Regions from separate parts of the Homo sapiens genome. Here region 1 is linked to region 2. The links come from fine-mapping of genetic effects on gene expression. Tissue or cell type: putamen. Region 2 holds a variant in brackets; the other region holds the start of a gene. All regions are shown on one strand. Distances are between the middles of the regions.

Evidence for each region. PIP is the estimated chance that this variant, and not a neighbour inherited with it, causes the effect.
Region 1: it holds the start of HHIPL1, and the variant in region 2 is fine-mapped to the expression of HHIPL1 in putamen (GTEx, PIP 0.96).

Annotation. Positions count from the first base shown.
Region 1 is chr14:99,643,779-99,646,415 of GRCh38, reverse strand. HHIPL1 (HHIP like 1) reads right to left here and starts at 1,287. Exons shown (of 9, transcript NM_001127258.3): 1 at 954-1,287. The coding sequence starts at 1,208.
Region 2 is chr14:99,671,994-99,674,824 of GRCh38, reverse strand. HHIPL1 (HHIP like 1) reads right to left here. Exons shown (of 9, transcript NM_001127258.3): 8 at 2,426-2,508. Among named protein-coding and RNA genes, the nearest start is that of CYP46A1, 11 kb to the left of the region's middle. RefSeq lists an enhancer at 2,464-2,831. The variant G/A (reference allele first, on the strand shown) is at 1,728.

The sequences.
Region 1 (2,637 bases), 28 kb after region 2:
AACTCCAACTCCAAGTCAGCCTTCTTGCCCTTCCCCACACCACCTGCCCCTGCTGGCCGAAGGCTGGGACACGGCCCTGGCCCCTGGGGCCTCTCCACCCCAGGCCTCTCACTGCCCAGATGCTGAGGCAGGAATGCCTTGGGGCTGCCCGTCCTGCTCCATTTCTGCATTCAGCCAGGCAACATTTGCCCACTTGGGTGTGGTCAGGCCCTGGGGCCTCAGACTCCCACAAGAGGAAAACAAATAGCGGTGGCACCACCAGGTGTGCACAGAAGCAGGGGCTCCACCCTCAGAGGGAAGATGGGGGGCCCAGGGGCTTCAACAAAGAGCTGTCGCTCAGTCTTGAGAGAGCTTCTGCAGGCCAGGGCGCCATCCCCAGGAGAGGGCACAGCACCCACAGAGGTGGTGGCGGAAGTGGCAAGGGCATCAGGATGGGGGTGAGACGCTCGTGGGGGACAGTGGCCCCAACCCCCTCAACAAACCCGGGCCACACGTTGACCACGCCCACGCCAGGGCCCCCTGCTTTCACTGCCCCGGGGACAACACAAAGGAGCACTGACCGGGACAGATGCCTCTCCACCTTGGTACCCCGACAAGGGTGCAGCTGCTCGGGGTGGGACGCTGAGGGGTCGACTCCAGGGGACTGGGGCAGAAGAGCCCCCAACCTCTGAGGAAATGATGACATCATCTGTCCGTCCGTCCGTCCTTCCTGCTTCAGGAGGGGAAACTGAGGCCCCGAGAAGGCCCAAGTCACAAAACTAATGAATGGCAAAGCCAAGAGTCGTCCTGGGATGCGCGGTCTCCCCGCCCCGTGCCAAATGACTCCCTGTTGGGGCTTAGAGTTCCCGAGTCCGCCGCCCACTCTTGGCCCTCGCCCCCGCGGGGTTCCGATCTCTGCTCCAGGACTCGGCCTCCCGCGCCCCGCCCCGCCCGGTGGCCGCGCGCCCGCTCACCTGGCACAGCAGGTCCCTCGCGTAGCCGGCGCACGCGGCCCACTCGGCGGCGTCCACGCGGCTCGCCAGGGCCCAGAAGCGGCGGGTCAGCTCGGCGTCGCGCCCCTCATCGCAGCAGCCGAAGTCCGAGTACTGCGCGCAGAGGCGCAGCGGCTGCGTCGGCCGGAAGGGCGGCCTGAAGTCCAGGCACTGCGGATGCGCGGCGGCCCCGAGCACCCAAAGCGCCAGCAGCGCCCCGGCCCTGGCCCGGGCCATCGCTACGCCCCGCGGGGGAAGAGGCGGAGGGACGGCAGCCCCGGTCCCCTCCCGGGGCGCTCGCGGCGGCAGGGAAGGGGCGGGCGCTCCCCTTCCCTACACGCAGGGCCTCGAGTTTGGGGACCTCCCCTTCTAGGAGGTCACCTCTGGTCGGGGACACTCGGCGGGACTGAAGGAAGAGGGACGCGGCGCAGAATGCGGCACGACCTCTTTTAACCGCTTTCCAAATTCGATGGGAGTGGCCCGGTCTGTTTAAAGCCCCGGTGTGTTTTCCCGGTTCCGCCTGGGGCCCTGCTTCCTCCCCACAGGGCGCTCTTTAGCCAGGGAGGCGCAGGGCCAGAGGCCTGGACTCCTGGGCTTCGGTTCCACCTCCCACTGGGCTAGGGAAACGGATGCCCGCAGCCCGTCCCCGAAAGCTCCCACGTAACATTTTAAAAATGGGGGTGCGAGGGAAAGAACAGGGGGTGTTGCCCCAGGACTCTCAGGGAGAAGTGAAACCTGGCGTAGGGGTGGGGAGGGAGGACGGAGCAGTCTCCGCAGTCCACCCTTTGCCCTTACTGTGGGCTTCTTCCCAGTCTCTGCTCCTGGGGCAGCGGATTCTCCTGCAGCCCAGGACCCACTGGGGCTCCCCACTTCCACTCTCGCATAGGGAGCACTGATGAATCTACCTCCTGGGATGGGCATCCAGCCCTTTGTTCCGCTGCCCCCGCTGGAGATTCAGACCCAACCCCGCCCCACCCCCCCACACACATACAGACGCACACACGCTGTCTTACCTACCCCAGAATCTCATGGCACCAAAACCACCCACACAGACAAACACACACACACTGTCTCACCTACCCTAGAATCTCACAGCACCAAAACCACCCAGGCATTTTTCTCAAGTGGACCTCAGCGTTTGCTTCTCCCTGGAGTGTCCTTCCCCATCTTCTCTGTCCAGTGAGCTCCTACTCCATCTTCATGGCCCCAACGCACACATCCGTCCTCTGCAGGTCTCTTTGGACTGTCCTGGGGGATCATGTTTCTGTCTTTGGGCCCATGCTCCTGGCAGAGCTGGGGGTGGATGAGATGCGGCAGGGCTGGAGCACTCAGAGGTCTGTGGCTCTGGCCTGAACAGGTGCAGTGTAAGAGTCAGGGTCTCCGCACAGCCAAACATCTCTGAGTATTTGAAACACGGGGAATTTAACGCAGGGACTTGAAGCCAAAGAGGCTAAGAAGCCATACAGGGCTCAGTGAAGTAACCTTGAGATCAGCAACAGTAGGAACAGTCCCCAGGTCCTTGATGCAGGAAGAGCAGATGTTACTGGAGCCAAGGAGCTATGGTCACCTTGTCAAAGCTGGACCCTCACAAGGCCTGTCTGGCCACAGCTGGAGATAGCCACTGTCAGAGATTCTGCACAGACAGAGGAGGAGAAATACCCCGGCT
Region 2 (2,831 bases):
TGTGCCAGTCTGCTGTTGCTGCGTCTCCCTACCCCAAGCCCCACCTTCCCAGGAGTCCCTAGGTTGGTGGGGGAGCCAGCTCCTGGCACTTCATAACTCTGGAAGGCAATGAAAGGAAGGAGTGTCTGGGAAGGCTTCTAAGAGAAAGTCACCGTTTCATCTTCCAGGCCTTGGTTGTGAGGGTGAGGAAGCTGAGGCCCACAGATGGGTAAAAACTGCTGCGGGTCTGTGGTGGCCAGTGGCCAGCAGGTTGGGAACGGGATACACACAGGGATCCCTGGGGTCAGGGTGAATCTCTTTCCTCCTGGTTCCCAAGGTTGGCACCAGCGGGTTGTCACAGCGGGTACGATGGGGGAACTCTGGTTGTGTCTGGGGAACAAGGCAGAGCCCCTATACCCCACCACAGAGCCTGGGTGCAGTCGGTGCTAGGGAGCTGAGGCAGGTGATTTCCTTTGTCTCTGCAGAATGTGGGGACACGCTTGGCCCAGGTCAGCCACAGGGATAGACCTCAATCTACACTTTGCTGTGCCCAGCTCTACTCCACACAGGTGCAGTGCCAGGCACTGGGCACTGCCATGCGTCACAGCCCAAGACTGTTCAATTACTATGGGGAGGATCCTGGGGCCACCAGGCCAAACCTCTTTAATCCCGCCCCACTTCAGCCAGTCCCACTTTGAAAACCACTGAGAGAGAGCTGAGAAAGGGCCTCTCAGCACAAGGCCAAGCACAGGCCAGGGCCCAGAGCACCATGACATGGGCAAGGCGCTCCCTGTCCCTGCACCCTGGCCCCTGGCCCCCACCTCCTGCTCCTCAGGCTGCCTCACCTCTCCCACTGTGGCTCTTGCTGTTCCCTCTGCCTGCACTGCCACCCCCCTCGGTGCACCCTCCTGAGTGAACCTCCCTCTTGGTGCCAGCCCCCCTCAGTGCACTCCCCCAGGTGCACCCCCCCGTGCAACCTGCCTGGGTGCATCCCCCAACTCTGTGCACCCCCCCTCCATGCCGCCCCCCTCAGTGCACCCCCCCTCCATGCCACCCCCCTTAATGCACCACCCCCTCCGTGCCACCCCCTCAGTGCACCCCCCTCCATTCCACCCCCCTCAGTGCAACCCCTCCAGGTGCACCCCCCTCAGTGCACCACCCCCTCTGTGCCACCCCCCTCAGTGCACCCCCCCTCCATGCCATCCCCCTCAGTGCACCCCCTCCAGGTGTACCCCCCTCAGTGCCATACCCACTCAGTGCCATCCCCCTAGCTGCCACCCCCCTCAGTGCAACCCCCTATTGGTGCACCCTTCCTCTTCTTTTCAGACTCCAGGAACCCCTACCCCCAACCCCAGTCTCCACTGTTCTGGGTGGGTCCTCACGGTACCTGGCACACACTTCGATCACAAGGCCTTGGACAGTAAATGACATCTCTGTCCGTCCCAGCCAGAACAGGGCCTAGTCTGACTTCTCACTGTGGCTCTGGCATCCAGCATGGAGCCAGTAACTAACAAAAGTGCCAGAAACTGCTGAATGAGTAAATGAAAAACTCACCAAGCCCTGAAACCAACTGTGGCCAGAACTCACTTCCAAAATCACTGAGCTCAGACCCTTCCCCCTCTACCCGGGTACCTCTTCAGCCCAGGTGCCTAGCCTCCCTCTCTTCTTGCCCTCCCCACCCCCATACACACCCAGTCTGCCAATGGGTGGCCTGCTGAGCCCACTTGGCCTGCTGAAATATTTTCCTT[G/A]GCTCGCGGAGTGGTTTTTAAAATTCTGAACTAGTCGCCAACACTTTGAATTGGGAGGTTGTACCTAACAGGCTGAGAAGGCGAGGACTGCAGTGTCTCGCCGTGTGCTGTATCCCCAGGGCAGGGCACGTGTCCGTGGTGAATGAGTGGATGGGGGGATTTTCTGCTTCTCTGAAGAATTGGAAGACCTGGCAACACAGGGTCTTTGTTCCCACCTAACTTGGGCCCAGGGGAACAGCCCCAGCCTGGGGCATCCCCTTCCCCCAGTCCCAGGCCCCATGGGCAGTCATTTGTGGCCCTGCTCTGTCGTCTCTCCTCATCAGGCTTGTCAACAATCTATGAAGGCCCAGCCCATATGCCAGCCCCTCCCACAAACAACTCTTCCGGTCTCCCTTGCTTACACACAGATACATCCTCTTTCTCTGTCCCTCCCAAGAACTCACAGAGTACCTTGCCTGGCACCAGCTATTTCTCTCTTGGTTTAAGGAATTGTGACCAATCAAGCAAGACCCAGTTTAGTTAAAGTCCCATCCACCTTACCACCATGTCTAATGTGTGCCAGGCACAGTGCTAGGCACAGGGGCTGAAGAGGGGCATCTAGGTCCAGCTGGTAAGACCCGAGTCTGGCTGGAAAGGCAGCCGTTGTGGGCTGCGGGATCTCTCCCCCAACCCTCAGTGTCCCACTGGCAGGCACTTACTTTCTTTGGGCACAAAGGGGATGAGACGGCTTCTGATCTTCACCTGAGCAGGCTGGATCTGACATTTGCCAGGTGGTGCCCGCCTGCCAACGACACACAGGAGGTTATGAGTCTCACCCTGGGAGCCCACCCTGAGGGTGCCTTTTCTCTACAGTGAGGCAGGTATGAACAGCAACGATAGTAACAGGCGGCCATTCACCATGCACCTACTGTGTGGCCTGCAGCTTCCCTGCCCACTCCATGCCCCCAGGATTCTAAGAGCTCCAGGGCATAAATCCCCTATAACAGCCTACCGGCTGCACGCTCAGCCTCTGCTGGAATAGCACCAGGGCTGGAGGCTTACTCTTTCCCAGGACATTTCTAATCCAGAGCATGGACTCTGTCCTCAGGGTGTGAACAAATGCCA